Regions from separate parts of the Homo sapiens genome. Here region 1 is linked to region 2. Evidence: fine-mapped expression QTL. A gene starts in region 2. The other region holds a variant in brackets. All regions are shown on one strand. Distances are between the middles of the regions. Region 1 overlaps EHMT1 (euchromatic histone lysine methyltransferase 1). Region 2 holds the start of DPH7 (diphthamide biosynthesis 7).

Region 1 (8,521 bases), 260 kb after region 2:
CAGCAGCCCACACAGTGGCCTATGGGGGAGACTGGCCAACGGCCTGAGAAATCCCATGGTCCACATTTCTGTGTGCCCCCCGTGGTGTCACCTCACTTGTTCTCTTATCCCGTGTTTGCGGCCAGCTGGGAGGAAGGGCTGAGGTTTGGCGACACTCACACCGGGGCTGCTGTGTCCCATAGGGAGCTTTATGGCCACCTCGACTGGCCACCCCGAGCATCCATGCCTTCCCTGTTTATTAACAGACATTCTTCTGTTTAAATAAATAAACCTTAAACCTGGGCTTTGTGGTTACTCCTCAGAGAAAGGCAAGATCAATGCTTTATTCTTACCATTTAGTTATCAAGTTTCAGAGGGAGGAAGTAGCAGCAAAGAAATTTTGGTCTTTTTTTTCTTTCCTCTGTTTTGAGTGTTAATGTGGGCTCATGGATTTTTACTTTTTTTTTTTGTTTACATTTTTACATGTGTGTTTGATCAGTTATAGCCATTCTTATTTAATGGTCAAACTGCCCCATCTTTGGCCATGGGGAGCCCATGCAGGCGAGCCCGTCTCCTTTGGTGACACTGCTCTTCGGTACCATGTGACACCCAGGCCTCCCTTATGTTCCTTGCCCCACACTTGGAATCAGCCATTTCTCCAGGATGTCCTTGTGCTTTTGGAAGAGAAAGATTTTTAGACACTGAAATGAGACTCTGGGGTGCCCACTGCTGTCAGGGTGCCATGGGCTCTTGACTCACTTTTCAGAGGACAGAGTTATGAAGTAAATAGATTTTTAAAAATGTGTTCATGTTAATATTTCCAATTCAAATTTAACAGTGTAGAGTTTTTATCCAACTTCTTTGATTTTATATTTGCATCTCTTACAATAAAAATTTTGGTTTCTAAAATCTTTAGTTTCAAAATAGCACTCCAGATATTACCGATAACAGTAAGCACCAGTCCAGCTCCCGGATGGCATCTGCGCTTCTTTGCAGCGTCTCACTCCTTAGAACATGTCCCATGGAAGCTGGGCCCAGTCTTGTGCTTCGCGGCACCAGAAATGTTGCTTGTGTGATTGTGTCACTGGCTTGATAGGCAGTTACATTAATTTTAGTTCATTTTAAATGTTACAATTTAATTTTTTGTTTTTTGATTGTGTAAAATTTTTGCATGCTTGGGAAGTTCACACCCAGAAAAGCCTTGCTTCTCTCCATGTTCTCTGTATTCTGTTTCCTGCTGTCTTAGTCCATTCGAGCTGTGATAGCAAAACACTGTAAACCGTGAGGCTTACAAATAACAGGAATGTATTTCTCACTGCTCTGGGGGCTGGAAGTCCCAAGATGAAGGTGTTAGTAGATCTGGTGTCTGGGGAGGGTTTCCTGGTTCGTAGCCAGTGCCTTCTCACTGTGTCCCCACGTGGTGGAGGGGGTGCAGCAGTTCTCTGGGGTCCCTTTTATGAGGGCACAATTCCCTCCACTCCCATGACCTAATCGCTTTCCCAAAGCCTCACCCTAACCTTGGGGTCTCAGCCTGTGAGTCTGGTCGGGGGGCACACACATTCCAACTGTAGCACCTGCAGTAACCATCAGCAGAAATCGAGAAAAAATACTCAAGTAGATTTCTTATTCCTTCTCTTTTCTTACACAAAAAGTGGTAGAGTGTAGATAGTGCACGAGCCCTTACCTTTCTCCCGACAGGATTTGGGGAGAGTCATCATATTGTCCGTACATGGAAATCTTTCTCCTTCTTTTTGGGGCATTCAGGTTGATTTCAGCCCTTGCTATTTATCTCAAATAATGTTGCGTACAAGTCAATTTGTTTGACTTTACCTGTCATTAGGCAAATCTCTGAGATTCTGTTCATCCACCCAGTGATGGCTTCAGCAGCCAGTGAATTTCGATGTAGAATTTCCGTTGGATTCTTTTTCTGTTTCTCCGCTGAGACTTCTCATTTCTCTGATATTTTCATGCCTTGAAATCTTTCTTTGTTCTTCATTGAGGACAGCCTTAGGAGCTGCCTTGAAAATACGTGTCTGTTGGCCCAGTGTCTGGTTCATCTCAAGGCTGGACTCAGTTGAGTGTTCTTTCGGACGTGTTCGTTTCCTCAGTGTTTCAAGCGTCAGGTCCCTTGAGTTGTTCCTGTTAACATGTGGGGAGGACTCTGGTTTCTCTTCTGCGTGGGCCTTGTTTCCCTAGTGCGATTGGCTGGGCCCCTTCTGCAGGCCCGGCCTCTCTAGTGGTCCCTGTGCTTTCGCCTCAGTCCTAGGATTGGCTGGGCTCCCTCCACAGGCTCCGCCTCCTACGTGGCTGCTGCACTTCGCCCCAGTCCTAGGATTGGCTGGGCTCCCTCCACAGGCTCCGCCTCCTACGTGGCCGCTGCACTTCGCCCCAGTCCTAGGATTGGCTGGGCTCCCTCCACAGGCTCCGCCTCCTACGTGGCCGCTGCACTTCGCCCCAGTCCTAGGATTGGCTGGGCTCCCTCCGCAGAACCCCCCAACCCCACGTGGCCCCTGTGCCTTCCCTCCAGTCCTAGGATTGGCCAGGCTCCCTCCACAGGCCCCACCTCCTACATGGCCTGTGTGCCTTCATTCCAGTCCTAGGATTGGCTGGGCTCCCTCCTCAGGCCCCGCTTCCCACGTGGCCTCTGCACCTCGCTCCCGTCCTAGAATTGGCTGGGCTCCCTCCACAGGCCCCGCCTTCCACGTGGCCTCTGCACCTCGCTCCCGTCCTAGAATTGGCTGGGCTCCCTCCACAGGCCCCGCCTCCCACGTGGCCACTGCACTTTGCTCCCATCCTAGGATTGGCTGGTCTCCCTCAGGCCCCGCCTCCCACGCGGCCTCTGCACCTCGCTCCAGTCCTAGGATTGGCTGGGCTCCCTCCGCAGGCCCTCCCCCCACCCACCCATGTGGCCCCTGTGCCTTCTCTCCAGTCCTAGGATTGGCTGGGCTCTCTCCGCAGGCCCCGCCTCCCACGTTGCCTATCTGCCTTACTCCAGCCGTCCTTCTCTGGACTGTTGTCTTTATCTGGTTCTGGTCGGGCAGAGATTTGTGTCACAGACTTTGACACCCCACCCATCTTAGAAGCTCGGAGCAGCGCTGTGTGCTCTGCCAGACGAGCTGCCCCTGGTGAAAGCTGGGCCTGGCCCCTCCAGTCGGAAGCCCCTCACTCTCCATTTTGCTGCTTATCAAGACCTTCGTGTGTGCGCCGTTGCTAGTTCCGGAATTGCATTCTGCACGAGGAGGGGTCGCCTATAGATTCTTAGTCCATCAGACCCCGAAGCAGAGGCCAAAGTCCACGCCAGGTGAGCCACTCTGAACTCTGTTTCTTTGGGGTAAACCAGGAGGCAGCTTCCCGCGCCTTTGGCTTTGGGGGCTGTGGCTGGTCCTGTCCTGCGGCCGTGCTCGCCTGGTTTACTGTCTTGTCACTGCCCGCGCCGTGAAGGTTGACGGAGAGCTGCTCTCGTCCACGCCTTTACCCGCTTGTTGGTTTGGGTTTTAACCTCTTGACCTCTGAGCGTCCCTGGCTCTCTGGTTAATGTTCATGCTGGGGCAGGTTGTGGACCAGGTGTCTCTGCCGGCAGGCCCCGCCCTCTCGGAACTCGGTCCTGGAAAGCCCCAGGTGCCTCCTTCCCCGTCTGCCTGGCTGTCGTCTGTGGTGTTGCCTCTTCCCGTCGCTGGGTAACAAACCACGCCACCCACCCGCAGCTCGCCATGGCGGCCACCCACTCGGCCCAGTGTGCGCAGCAGGGGTTGGGCGTGCCGGGCCTCGGGCTGCACAGGCAGGGTGCTGCTGAGCCCAGGTCCCTGTGGTTGCGTGGGCAGCGTCTAGGTTCCTTGCTAGCTGCCGGCCGGGACCACCTACCTTACTCCCACGCAGCTCCTCCATCCAGGCCCCAGCAGCTCCAAGCCCTGGGTCTCCAGAGAGAATTGCTTTTAAAGGGGTTGCGTGGTTAGGTCAGGCCCACCCACCTCGTCCCCCTCTCTATGGTCAATTCAGAATCCATCATCACAGGCCAGTGCCAGGGGCC[A/T]GGGCCCAGGGCCATGTGGCCACCCGGAATCCTGGGCTCCTCTCCAAGGCACCAGGGTGAGGAGGACGCCTCAGTCTCTTCGGCCTCGTGTTCCACAGTCACATCAGCACCCGGAAGGGCTGCAGCAGAAGTCGTTTTCTGTGGGCAGCCTCCGCCTGACGGTCCTCCCTGGTGCCATTCGCCACTGAGTCTTCCCAGACCCTCTGGGGACTGCTCCGCCTCCTCGTCACCAAGACAGTGTGTCCCGGATGCCAGCTCCATCCCTCCCGACCCCCTCAGCCCCTGCCACTGCCTCACGGGGCTCTTGCAGCCCCGGCCTCCTTTCTCCTATTGGTGCCAGACAGCCCCATGGGTCCTCGGGTGGGATGGCGCTGTCCACATTCCACCGCGCTGGAAGCCCCATGGGGACGCCGTCAAGGGAACGGCCCGCACCACCCCCACCCCACCACAGACGGAGGCCCAGCGAGGACGGCAGGGTGCGGGGTGGGTGGCCACACAGCGAGGAGAAGGCTGGCGGAGGCTCCGCACCGCCGCCACAGGTCACTGGAGAAGGCCCCTCCTGCATGGCGGGCCTGCGCCCAACTGCAGGCTCCGGGACTGCCATGCATGGCCGTACCCGGCGAGGCCGGCGTGTCGGGGCCTTGCTAACTGCAGCCCGTGCCGGCTTCTCGCCCTGCAGGACGGGGAGGTTTACTGCATCGACGCGCGGTTCTACGGGAACGTCAGCCGGTTCATCAACCACCACTGCGAGCCCAACCTGGTGCCCGTGCGCGTGTTCATGGCCCACCAGGACCTGCGGTTCCCCCGGATCGCCTTCTTCAGCACCCGCCTGATCGAGGCCGGCGAGCAGCTCGGGTACGCACCGCCCCGGCCCCTGGCCATCTCCGCTGCCGGCGGGACGGTTTTAGGAACGGGGCTCGCATTGCTTTCCTGGGCTTGTCTCGGGTTTATGCTAGTGGTTTTCCTGTAGTTCTAAAAACTGCGACCTGGGATGCGGCACGGCAGATCGGGGTGAGGAAGCTTTGGCCTTGCCTTAATTTATCTGGCTTGTGGGAGGTGCCGGTGGGATTCGACTTGGAGCCTTGGTTCTGTTCCCTCCCCAGGTTTGACTATGGAGAGCGCTTCTGGGACATCAAAGGCAAGCTCTTCAGCTGCCGCTGCGGCTCCCCCAAGTGCCGGCACTCGAGCGCGGCCCTGGCCCAGCGTCAGGCCAGCGCGGCCCAGGAGGCCCAGGAGGACGGCTTGCCCGACACCAGCTCCGCGGCTGCCGCCGACCCCCTATGAGACGCCGCCGGCCAGCGGGGCGCTCGGGAGCCAGGGACCGCCGCGTCGCCGATTAGAGGACGAGGAGGAGAGATTCCGCACGCAACCGAAAGGGTCCTTCGGGGCTGCGCCGCCGGCTTCCTGGAGGGGTCGGAGGTGAGGCTGCAGCCCCTGCGGGCGGGTGTGGATGCCTCCCAGCCACCTTCCCAGACCTGCGGCCTCACCGCGGGCCCAGTGCCCAGGCTGGAGCGCACACTTTGGTCCGCGCGCCAGAGACGCTGGGAGTCCGCACTGGCATCACCTTCTGAGTTTCTGATGCTGATTTGTCGTTGCGAAGTTTCTCGTTTCTTCCTCTGACCTCCGAGGTCCCCGCTGCACCACGGGGTTGCTCTGTTCTCCTGTCCGGCCCAGACTCTTCTGTGTGGCGCCGCCGAAGCCACCGTTAGCGCGAGCTGCTCCGTTCGCCCTGCCCACGGCCTGCGTGGCTGGGGCCGAGTCCCAGGGGCCGCACGGAGGGCACAGTCTCCTGTCAGGCTCGGAGAGGTCAGGAGACCGACCCCACCACTAACTTTGGAGAAAATGTGGGTTTGCTTTTTAAAGGAATCCTATATCTAGTCCTATATATCAAACCTCTAACTGACGTTTCTTTTCGAGGAAGTGGCTTGGTGGGTGCAGCCCCCGCCGGTTCCGTTGACGCTGGCACCTTCTGTTGATTTTTTAAGCCACATGCTATGATGAATAAACTGATTTATTTTCTACCATTACTGAACATTAGGACAAACACAAAATAAAAAACAAAACACAGACAACGGTGCTGATTCTGGTGTGGTTTCTACTCACCACGTGAAATAAACTATCAACTGTATAAAGAGAACAAAGTGATTTTAGAATAAAATGCAGGAAAAACTTTTTTAAAGATGTTAGTCTTGTAGCGTGAATAAATTTGCCATCACCTTTTGTGTGGTGGCCTGGCAGGTCATATACTTTTTTTTGGCATATACCTTTTTAAAGACTGTAATTAGTGCAGTAACAGTGGGGTTTTTTTTGTGCAACTCTTCTAAAAACATTCATAATGCAGTCATGTTTATTTTTTTCTGTTAAAATGTTTTTGACAGTTTTAAGAGCAGTCTTTTGGCTCTGACCATTTCTTGTTCTGTTTCCAATGAAATCAATAAAAAAAAAGAAGTACTTTAAATGGGGTTTTTATTATGACACCATATTTCAGGGTCTCTGCAGAACTTGCAGGTCCCCCTGGACCCGGCCCAGCTCTCTGTCCCCTGTCCAAGGAAGTACAGCTTCCTTTTCACCCCAGATCTGTCCCCGAAGAGGGGACGTTCCAGGCAGAGGTTAGGGGAGCCTGTGCATTTGCGCACGTGTCGAATGAGTCTGTGTGTGTCCACGAATGCATCGTGCACGTGGTGCGAATGCGGGCACACTGGTGTGTGTGTGTGTGTGTGTGTGTTTGCATGTCTGTGTCTAGCGCCAGGTGCCCAGCTCTGGGCGTCATTCTGGAAGCCGACAGGGCACATCAGGTGAGTCCCACAACCAGAGGCAGAGCTGCACTTGAACAGCGAGGCCGGACAAGGGAGAGCCAGAGCCCGTCCTACTTCCTGCCAGCCATGACCCCCACTCCTCTACGGGGACCCCTAGACCCAAAGCCTCCAGCCTGCTATGTTCTCCATGCTGACTGGCCTCACTCACCACAGGAGGGCTTTTCGTGTAACCTCAGTAACACGCTCAGACACTCCACGGTTTAATACACAGAATTCACGCAGGTGTTTTTGATGCTTTTCCAGCACAGTCATAACTGCCCTGCACTTTGTGAATAGACGGCCCCAGCAGGGTGCGCGGTCGTCCAGCCTGAGGTACGAGTGCCTGTCACCAGACATTGCGCAACTGCATGAAGGACTGGGCAGGCGGACCCAGGATGGATATGGCCCACCTGTGACCCCTCTGCACAGGGCCACAGGGGAGGCCGCATTCCTCCAGGAGCCCAGACAGCCTACGGCCTTTCACGTCTGCGTCCGTGAGGAGGGGCTGTGTGGGGTGGGCTGGGTTCCCGCCAAGCCCGGGCTCAGGAGGGTGTAGGGGTCGCAGGTCACCTCATCCCAGAGGCAGTGGCAGGAGGTGACTGAGGGCCCACTGGAGCTTGAACCTCAGGCTCTGCCGGCTCCACCAGCCCTGCAGGGGGAGCAGCCCTGCCAGAGGAGCAGCTGGTACAACCCCTTCCCCTGGGACAGCCCGTAGCTGGCAGATGACTCTAATTAATTTTTGTGGCTTGAGTGTCCACCTGTTCTGCTCCGTGCCCTGGGTCAGCTGCTGGGTGTACAAACAGGTATTGGTTGAATTAAGCCAACAGCAAACTTTTTGGGTGTCACGAAGGCCCACCAGGGTGGCCCCACAACTGGGCCCTGTCACAGAAAGTTCCAGCCGTTTAAAATGAGCACCCAACACAGAGCCCACCTCACATGGTCCTGGACAGCTCTGCCGTGACCGCCTTGTCCCTAAACCAGACTCGGCTTGGGAGGAAGAGACCTTACAGGGCCTTTGCGCTGTGGGGCAGCAGCTGCACGTGCTCCGGGGAGTGCAGGCCTGGGAAGGGGGCTGAGGGGACCTGCGGCAGGTGCGGGGAACAGGCAGGTGAGTCTCACAGGGACCAGGTGGGCCGGGGCAGGGCAGGAGGCCTCCCCCTCCCCCTCCCCCTCCCCTCCCTCTTTCTCCTCTTTGGATAAATAAAAATGGAAAACCCATGCAGGTTGGCCCTCTGGTCCTGCAGCAGCCAGAACCCCTCACGTGGGCAAAGCTCCTAGCAGGTTCTTAGCCCACTTGGGCAGAGAGCAGCCTGCACCCTTGTCCTGGCCCAGGCTGTAGTCTGTGAGAGAAAACAGGCTTGTGGGGCTGGAGGGGAGGCCCCTCTGAGCTCACTGGGTGGGGGTCGGCCTGCTGAGGCACTCAGTGAGTGGACTTGGGTGTGACACTGTGGAGCCCAGGGGGCCCCAGCCGGGAAGGCCAAGGAGATGGCAGCAGTGCCCACACACAGTGGGTCCTTGTGCTTGCTGGCTCCTGGCACCCCCGCCCCCCACATGCAGGCTTGAGGGACCCAGGGCCCCTTTTTTAGCTCCTCCCCTGACCCATGGTGACTCGGGAACGTAGTTCCCCCAGGGCAGGGAACAGGGCTCAGCCTCCGGCCAGGCTCCGTCAGTCCTGGGAGTGTGAGCTGGGGCCTTCCTGGGTCAGTGCGTTCCGAGGGGG
Region 2 (8,475 bases):
AAGACTCAGTTTCAAAAAAAAAAGTACACTTTCCATAAAAGGTCTTCAAGATCCCAACATAACTGGAATCACAGCTGTGGCACAGGCCTCCCTCTCTCCCTCCGCCCCTTCCTCAGCAAGCCTTCCATCAGAGGTGACCGGTGGAGGAATACTGACCTGAATACACAATTTCTGGATGCCAGTAATTGAAAGCAGCAATCCAGGCCTCGAATTGATGTGCCTGCCATGAGGCCACTTTCTGCAGCCTGGGCCTCGTCTCATTCACCATCAGGAGGTGGAGCTGCCCTGTGGAGTCACTGCTGATGATCTTCAAGGGCTGGTCCCCGGCCCTAGACACAGGGAACCCATGAAGAAGCCCGGCAGAATGTTATTCGTCAGCCTCTTCTGGTTCCCAAACAAGTCCTGAGAGACGGTCTCCACAGCCCTGGGATGCGGATATGCCCCTTAAGAGACTGGCGGCTAAGATCACAACCACTGCTAAGCTTGTCAAAGACACCAGTGTCGACTTCTCTAGGTAAAAACACTATCGCTATGTATCTAAAATGGGGGACCTTTTTTTCATAATAGGACTGGCAGTGATGATGTCAGGGCTGAGGAGCACAGTCGCAGCTCGCTGAAGGTGGCTGGAGCCCTCTAGCCTGAAAAGTGGAAGTGGTTCTCAGAGAAAGACTCAGGACCCCTGACCAAGCCTGGCCCTTACCTTCCAGTTTTCCCAGTGGACCAATCTAGGGACAAAGCCAGACACTGCTCCTCCAGGGCAAGGCTGGACAATGGCTCCAGCACGTGGCTCTTCTACTGGAGAAGAAGAAACTCCATCAAAGGGAAGTAGCCGCCCCAGAACCCCCAAAAGACTTTTCCTCTCCTGCAGGGAAGTCATCGTTCCCTCATTTACAACCTATGCGAATGAAGTACATCAGTCACTGAGTCACACCTCCACCTAACACTGAAACCCCTGCTAGGGGCCCCGAGAAGACCTGGGGACACTGGAGCTCACACTCCTCACACTTGCAGGACAACTTTCCCACAGGCTTGATCTTGGGGCATGGTCTCCCTCCCTTTCACACCCCCTTGCCATCCTTGCGCTCCTAGATGCTGTCGAGATGCCTGTGCAGGCTCCAGACCACAGTGGCACACACAGTTTCCCACCCCAGGCCTCCAGGGCCACTGGAACACTCGCCTCCCGAGACAGAGACAATGGGGAAACTCCTCTGGTTTCCACTTCAGAAGCCGCGAGCAGCCATGAGAACGTGGTTGCTCTTTATGCAGATCTATATAAATTTCATTTCCTAAACAGCCTGGCCAGTGCTTAACTCCATCCCTGCTCCCAGCAGGCTGCTGTACCAAAGCCCTTTCCTGGGTTCATGCACTCCTCCCTTGGGCCCACAGCTTTCCTGTGGCTGCTCTTTCCCTCCTTTCTAAGACAGGGCAACTGCTCTAAGCTGCCTTAAGCAAGGCCTTTTCCTACACAGGCCCTCGGTTGGCCCAGCCCCGCCTGCAGCATCTGCATCGGAGTGAGGGCGTGGTTTCAGGCTGTTTACATCACCCCACTACGGGACATCCCCGTTCTCCTCCCCGACAGCTATCAGATGAAGTCACTTTGTTAATGCATGGCTCCAGAGCACTGTGAGAAACTCGGAAAAATTCACACAGGACTCACGTGCTTTTCCAATAATCAGTGAGAAATGCCATCTTCACACAGGATGCTCACTGCTACTCTGGGCCCCAGCATCAACCTAAGAATGCTTGCCCAGGCTCTCCTTAGAGAACTTTCAGATCCACTGACAGGTCAATGAACATCCTGTCACTTCAGCCCTTCTGCTGGTGACACATGAGGTGACTTCCTCTTGGAGTTGGATGTAGAACGCAATACAACTTAAAAATAGACTCCACATTATCTTAGAACGTTTATATATAGCTCACCATTGAAGAGAGATCGTTTTAGAAAAATGTCTGTATCAGCACAGCCTCCTCCCCAACCCTCTCTATTCAGGTCCCTTCTGCCCCACAGAACAAGTGCAAGTCACTGACCTCAGATTCCACCAGGCGGAGCAGTTGTATGGATCCACTGGCATCTGCCAAGCCCAAGAGGGCATGTCCAGCCACCGGGATGTGACACCTGAGGAGAGGGCCCACCATAAGCACACCAATGTGCCCGGAGCACAGGCGTGCACTGTGCGTCCCGGTAACCACAGTCACGCTTCCCTTAACAACGGGGCTGCAGTCCACGCAAACCCAGCTGGGACATCCTACTACACACCTTGATTATATGGTATGGCCCACTGCTCCTATGCCACAAACCTTACAGCATGTTACTGCAGGCAAGTGTGACACAACAGGAAGTGGTTGTATATCTAAACATAGAAAAGATACAGTAAGAATACAATATAAAGGATAAAAAACAGGTGGCCGGGCATGGTGGCTCACACTTGTAACCCCAACACTTTGGGAAGCTGAGGTAGGAGGATGACTTGAGGTAAGGAGTTCGAAACCAGCCTGAGCAACATAGCAAGACCCTGTTTCTACAAACTAACAAACAAACAAAAATGAGGTGTGGTAAGGCCAGGCGTCGTGGCTCACGCCTGTAATCCCAGCACGTTGGGAGGCTGAGGCGGGTGGATCACGAGGTCAGGAGATCAAGACCATCCTAATAACATGGTGAAACCACGTCTCTACTAAAAATACAAAAAAATAAGCCGGGTGTGGTGGCGGGCGCCTGTAGACCGAGCTCTTAGGGAGGCTGACGCAGGAGAATGGCGTGAACTCAGGAGGCGGAGCTTGCAGTGAGCCGAGACCGCGCCACTGCACTCTAGCCCGGGCGACAGAGCGAGACTCCGTCTCAAAAAAAAAAAAAAGAGGCATGGTGGCATCTACCTGAAGTCTGAAGTCTCAGCTACTCGAGAGGCTGAGACAGAGAATTGCTTGAGCCCAGGAGTTCAAGGCTGCAGTGAGCTATGATCACGTGACTGCATTCCAGCCTGGGCAACGGAACAAAACCCTGCCTCAAAAAAAAAAAAATTAAAAAGGATAAAAACTGGTACACCTGTATAGGGCATCTCCATTACGTTAAGGCACCACCATGGTATACGTGCTCCATTGTTGACCAAAACATAATTATGCCACACACCACTGCATTTAAATCTCAGCTCCAAAAGTGGGCTAGAGCCTACAACTGTGTTCTCAAACAAAAGACGCCCCAGGTTATGAAGTCAGAAAACTCCCATCACTTCCCCGGCTGGAACATGACAAAGGAAATAAGCCCCAGGTAAAGCACTCCCCAGGTGGAAGATAGGCGGGACAGCAAAGAAACAAATCCAAAGTTGAGATGCAATGCCTGTCTTGTTGAAGGCATCAGGCATCAGGCTTCCCTGATTGCTACTCATGACAAATTCTACACCCAGTGGGATTATCACAGTTATACCATTTCATGTCCAGGATTGCAGAAGTATCTTTTCTTTGGACCTCGACCAGAGGGTGAATAGAGTTGTTGTCATTGAAACTGTACAGGAAGAGACGGCCTAAACGGACCTGAGGCTCCTTAACTTCCATTCCACCCTACAAAAAATGCAGAGGTAGTCTCTGATTATCCCAAGACACGAAGGAACCCAAAGGATGGGAAAAGGGATCCAAGGAACTCAAAGGTTTGCCATGACTAAAGGAGTGGAATTCTGCCTGGAAGGAGAACCTCTGGTTTTCTGAGCTGGAGAAACGTCTATTAATGAGTAGGTGAACACTCCTGGACCCAGTAGAGAAGGCTCCTTCTAAACCGGCCAACAGGGACCAGCTATGGCTAGGGTAACCACAGAACCCAGTTTGCCTGGGACAGTCCTGACTTACGCCTGTTGTTCCAGTGCCCAATTTGGATCCTAATATGTACCCACCAGAAGTTAAGATATAATTCCCACTTTCTCTTTACTGTACATTCCACCCATTCCCTTGGGCCACACCTGTATATAGAAGACGTTCTGCTCTCAAGATTTTAAAGTTGGCCGGGGGCGGTGGCTCGTGCCTGTGGTGCCAGCTACTCAGGGGGTTGAGGCGGGAGGATGCCCTGAGCCCTGGAGTCCGAGGCTGCACTCCAGCCTGGGTGACAGTGCAAGACCTTGTCTCAGAAAAAAGTAATTTCTTTTTTTTGAGATGTAGTCTTGCTGTATCGCCCAGGCTGGAATGCAGTGGTGCGATCTCGGCTCACTGCAAGCTCTGCCTCCCGGGTTCACGCCATTCTCCTGCCTCAGCCTCCCGAGTGGCTGGGACTACAGGCGCCGCCACCACGCCCGGCTAATTGTTTTGTATTTTTTTAGTAGAGACGGGGTTTCACCATGTTAGCCAGGATGGTCTCGATCTCCTGACCTCGTGATCCGTCCGCCTCGGCCTCCCAAAGTGCTGGGATTACAGGCGTGAGCCACTGCGCCCGGCCGAGAACAATTTTTTTAAAAAGATTCTAAACTGTTTCCAGCCTACCTCCTGGCCAAAGGGCCAATATCCCCTCTTCATCTCCTGGGCGATTCGGTGCGCCTTTCGGCCTCAACCTCGTGGCCGGCCCCGCCCTCCCCTCCCGAAGCCGCGGCGCGCGCACCTTGTTCTGGGGGCCGGCAGGCCGGTCCTCCGGCCGCCGCAGCTGGTAGGTCCCGCACGCCAGCAGGTGCCTGCAGCCTTGCAGCGGGCACCACTCCACCGAGTCCGCGGTCAGCTCGGTGTCCACCGTTTGCAGGGCGAAACAGCCCATCATCCAGCCCTCGGGGAAGGGCGCGGAGCCGGCAGTAGAGGCGGGTCGGCGGGGCCGGGCTGGGTACTGCGCGGGGCGGCGAGGCCGGGGCCGGCCGGACGAGCGCAGAGCCCCAGGGACACCGTCAGCGCGGGCCGCCTCTCTCGCGACTCCTTCCGGGGTGCCGGGGCGGGACATCCGGCAGGGCCTTGGCCTCCGTGGACGCCCCTGGGAAGCCAGGCTCCCACGCCCCCTGTCGGCCGGCTGACCGCGGCGGGCTTCAGGCGTCAGACGCGCTGCTCCCTGCGGGGCCGTAGAGACCGAAGGCTTCGGGAAATCCGCTCCTCCACAAAGCAGGTTTGGAGACGGCAAGTTAGTGACAGAGCCGTAGGTTTGAAGCCGCCTCTGCAAAATTTCTATCACTGAGAAAAACCCCAACAGCGAGCTGCGGTAGCGCACCCCGTGGCGCCCTCCCGGTTACTCCTGGCCATCGGGCCGCGCTGACTTAACATTTAGGCTGCAGTTTCCATGACAGGCCTTGCCCCGGAATCAACGCCTTCGTAAAGCTGATGAGGAGCCCGCGCCCCACTAAGCCCAGCACCCCGAGGCCGCAGGCGCGCTCTGCCTGCCTCCTGTGAACCCGCCATGGCGGAGCTGCCCCTCAGAGACCGCCTTCCAGGGTCTTTGCTTGTCTGACACCCGTGGCTGCATCAGGACCCCCCAGAAGCGGCTCAGCAGGTGGACGGCTCCGACCCCTATGATTATCAGCACCAGTCGCCTGGCCGCCGCCCCCCTCCCCCAAAACTGCCTTTGAAAAAACCCCTAACCTAGGAGCTTTGGACAAGATGATCTGAGGACGAACTCCATCTCACATGTGGCCTGGCCGGCCCGTGTCTATTAATTTTTTTGTTTTTTTTTTTTGAGACGGAGTCTTGCTCTGTCACCCAGGCTGGAGTGCAGTGGCGCGATCTCAGTTCACTGCAAGCTCCGCCTCCCGGGTTTAAGCCATTCTCCTGCCTCAGCCTCCCCAGTAGCTGGGACTACAGGCGCGCATCACCACGCCCAGCTAATTTTTTGTATTTTTAGTAGAGACGGGGTTTCACCGTGTTAGCCAGGATGGTCTCGATCTTCTGACCTCGTGATCCACCCGCCTCGGCCTCCCAAAGTGCTGGGGTTACAGGTGTGAGCCACTGCGCCCGGCCCTAAACTTTTTTTCTTTATTGCAATCCACGGTCTGAATGTGTGCAGCGGGCAGGAAGAACCCCTTGGGCCGTTACAGGTTGAACTGTGCCCCCCAAAAAACAATGGACTGAAGACCCCAGCACCTCAGAGAGCATCCTTAACAAACAGGGGCTCTCAGAAGCAGCAGGCGTGGGCCCTGACCCAGAGGAGCAGGAGTCCGCAGAAGAGAAAGCTGATGCAGAAGACTTGCAGGGCCATTGCTGTGCAGAGCACAGGGAGGCAGGCAAGGCACCTGGCAGGGAGGAGGCGTCCGCACCTGAGGGCCCTTGCCTGCGCCTTCATCTGAGACTCCGGCCTCCAGAGCCTAGACTGTGAATTCCCGCTGCTTCAGGCTGCACAGCTCGCGCTGCTTTGTTGCGGCAGCTCCAGGAAGCTAAGGCGGACTTGACTGAAATATACGGGTGCCTGGGTATTCAGCCTCAGGGCTTCAAGCAGGGCTGTGGCTAAAGACATGGCAGAGAGCCAACAGCTCAGACCACCACAGAGACAGAGGCGCAGAAAAGGCTGGCCAGGAAGGCAGCAGGGCATTCCAAAAGGGCCTCAACCACACACCTCTGCGGGGGAGGGAGAGTGACCAGGTGCGCATCCCAACACACCACACTCCAAACAAGCTTTAGAAGCAGCCCCACATTGCAGCCATCTGGATGTCCTCACAGGACGTCTTAGATACCTGGCTACGAAGACCAAGAAGTCGGGGCCACGGAACGGGAAAGATGACCAGAGGATTGGGTATCAGGTGAGAGGGAAGCAGTGGTGGGGCCCGTCCCACCCTCACGGTGCCACCTGCTGGGGTGAGGCCTGGAGGAGCTGCCACATGCAAACCTAGAACCTGCACCGCCCCCTTCCCCAGCGTGGTGTCTCACAGGTGGGAGGCCCTGGGCGCTTCTTTCAGTGCACTTTTCTGATGAATGACTGCCAAACAAAGCAGCCCTGCTGGTCAGGGGCAACATGGCCACACCCCTGGATGCAGGTAAAGGGGACCCCTGCACTCCGTGCTCATCCTCAGACTCTATCTGAAAGCAGGCTGCCTGAGGGCACTCGGGGCTCCAGGCCTGAAGACTGCCCCAAACCCCAACCTGCTGACCCGCCATCTCTAGGGACACATATGTCCCCCTCCCTGGCAGCTTTCACCTACTCAGCAAAAAATGTCCCCAACCTTTGCAGCAGCTAAGGGGGCTTCTCAGGGCCTGATGTGGGCACATGCAGTTCTCTAAGCTCCAGGAAATCCTGCGGAGTTTGTTGATATCACCCATTTTCAGCAGTCCTGTTCTTCAGGAGCCCCCAGGGTACTGCCAGAAAAGGTACTGGAAGTTTTGCTTACAGACAAAAGCCAGCCCAGCCAGGGGCAGCAATGAGAACACACAGGGTGTCCTGGAACATGGCAGTGGAGCTTCAAGAAGGGAAAGTGTAGCAGCAACCTGTGGGACCAACACAGGGTCGGACCGGACCAGACCAGACAGGTCAGAGTCGGACTGGCCAGGCTTCCAGCTCCCAAGAAGCAAGGCCTCTGGCTGGGCGCACCTGGAGACAGGCAGGATCCCAGCCACACAGCCTGGCATGTTTCCCTGGGGCAGCTCTATGGGTACAAGATGCTGACCAGCCCCAGACACCTGGGGCTCCCCAAGGAGAGGGAGGGCTATCCTGGAAACCACAGCCCTGCAGACGGACGGAGAAGTGAGACCCTCACCTCACCCTGGCTGGCCAGCCCCCTCCACCATCTGCAGCAGGCCTGCTGAACATGCCCTGTGGATTCTTCTGGGCAGAAGCTCACTGCTGAGCTCCCAGCCACTTCATGCATAAATCAGGCAAGAACTAACCAATGTCAGGGGCGAGAGCATCCTACTCCCCATAAAACAGCGGGCAGCTGACTTAGCAACCCCACCACTCCTGCCGCAAGACAAGGACAGAGTCTCACTCATACTCCCTGCTGGACTCAGGAAGGTCTGAGCTCACCCGCTCCTCAGAAGGGCCCACCAGGAACAAGGGTCCTCCTGCCTCACCCACAAGGACTCGGCTCCACTCAAAATGACCTCACCCTAAGCAGCACAAGAGGGAGGCGGAGCAGAGAATGTCCGAGAGGCCAGATGATTCCACCCCTTTACTTTGCCTTTGTGGACACAACTCCCGTGCAGGCCGCGCTCCACGGGGCTCCCGGCGGCCCAGGGGAGAAGCTTCGACAACAGGACAGTTTTTAGTCACGTGGCCTGACCGTTTGCCATTTAAGGATTACAGCAAATGATTCTATTTGTAATTTCTACCCTTCCCATTGCCTCCCCCCCAAAAAAAACTGTACATGAGTTTACAAACATATTAACATATAAATAATGAGAACCGTCCTGGTGGGAGCCTCCTCCGTTGTCTCTGCTGGAGATGAACACTGAGGGGCGCTGTAACCACACAGACTGCCTGTGACATCGGGAGTCTCACGGCAGCTGTCCTGGGCCCGCAGCTGGCTTTTTTGGCACCTCCAGGTTCAACCACCAGTCTGTCTCTGCTGTGCCCAGGGTAGAGCCCGGGGGCTGTGAGTATGT

The links. PIP is the estimated chance that this variant, and not a neighbour inherited with it, causes the effect.
Region 1: its variant is fine-mapped to the expression of DPH7 in whole blood (TOPMed, PIP 0.98).

The regions. Positions count from the first base shown.
Region 1 is chr9:137,829,664-137,838,184 of GRCh38, forward strand. It overlaps EHMT1 (euchromatic histone lysine methyltransferase 1), which reads left to right. Exons shown (of 27, transcript NM_024757.5): 26 at 4,686-4,861; 27 at 5,110-6,464. The coding sequence ends at 5,290. Among named protein-coding and RNA genes, the nearest start is that of MIR602, 4.5 kb to the right of the region's middle. The variant A/T (reference allele first, on the strand shown) is at 4,007.
Region 2 is chr9:137,574,052-137,582,526 of GRCh38, forward strand. DPH7 (diphthamide biosynthesis 7) reads right to left here and starts at 4,874. Exons shown (of 9, transcript NM_138778.5): 1 at 4,574-4,874; 2 at 3,419-3,552; 3 at 2,029-2,116; 4 at 701-792; 5 at 157-329. The coding sequence starts at 4,726. It overlaps ZMYND19 (zinc finger MYND-type containing 19), which reads right to left. Exons shown (of 6, transcript NM_138462.3): 6 at 8,030-8,475. RefSeq lists enhancers at 1,386-1,680, 1,610-2,419, 5,154-6,125, 5,220-5,279 and a silencer at 4,560-4,969.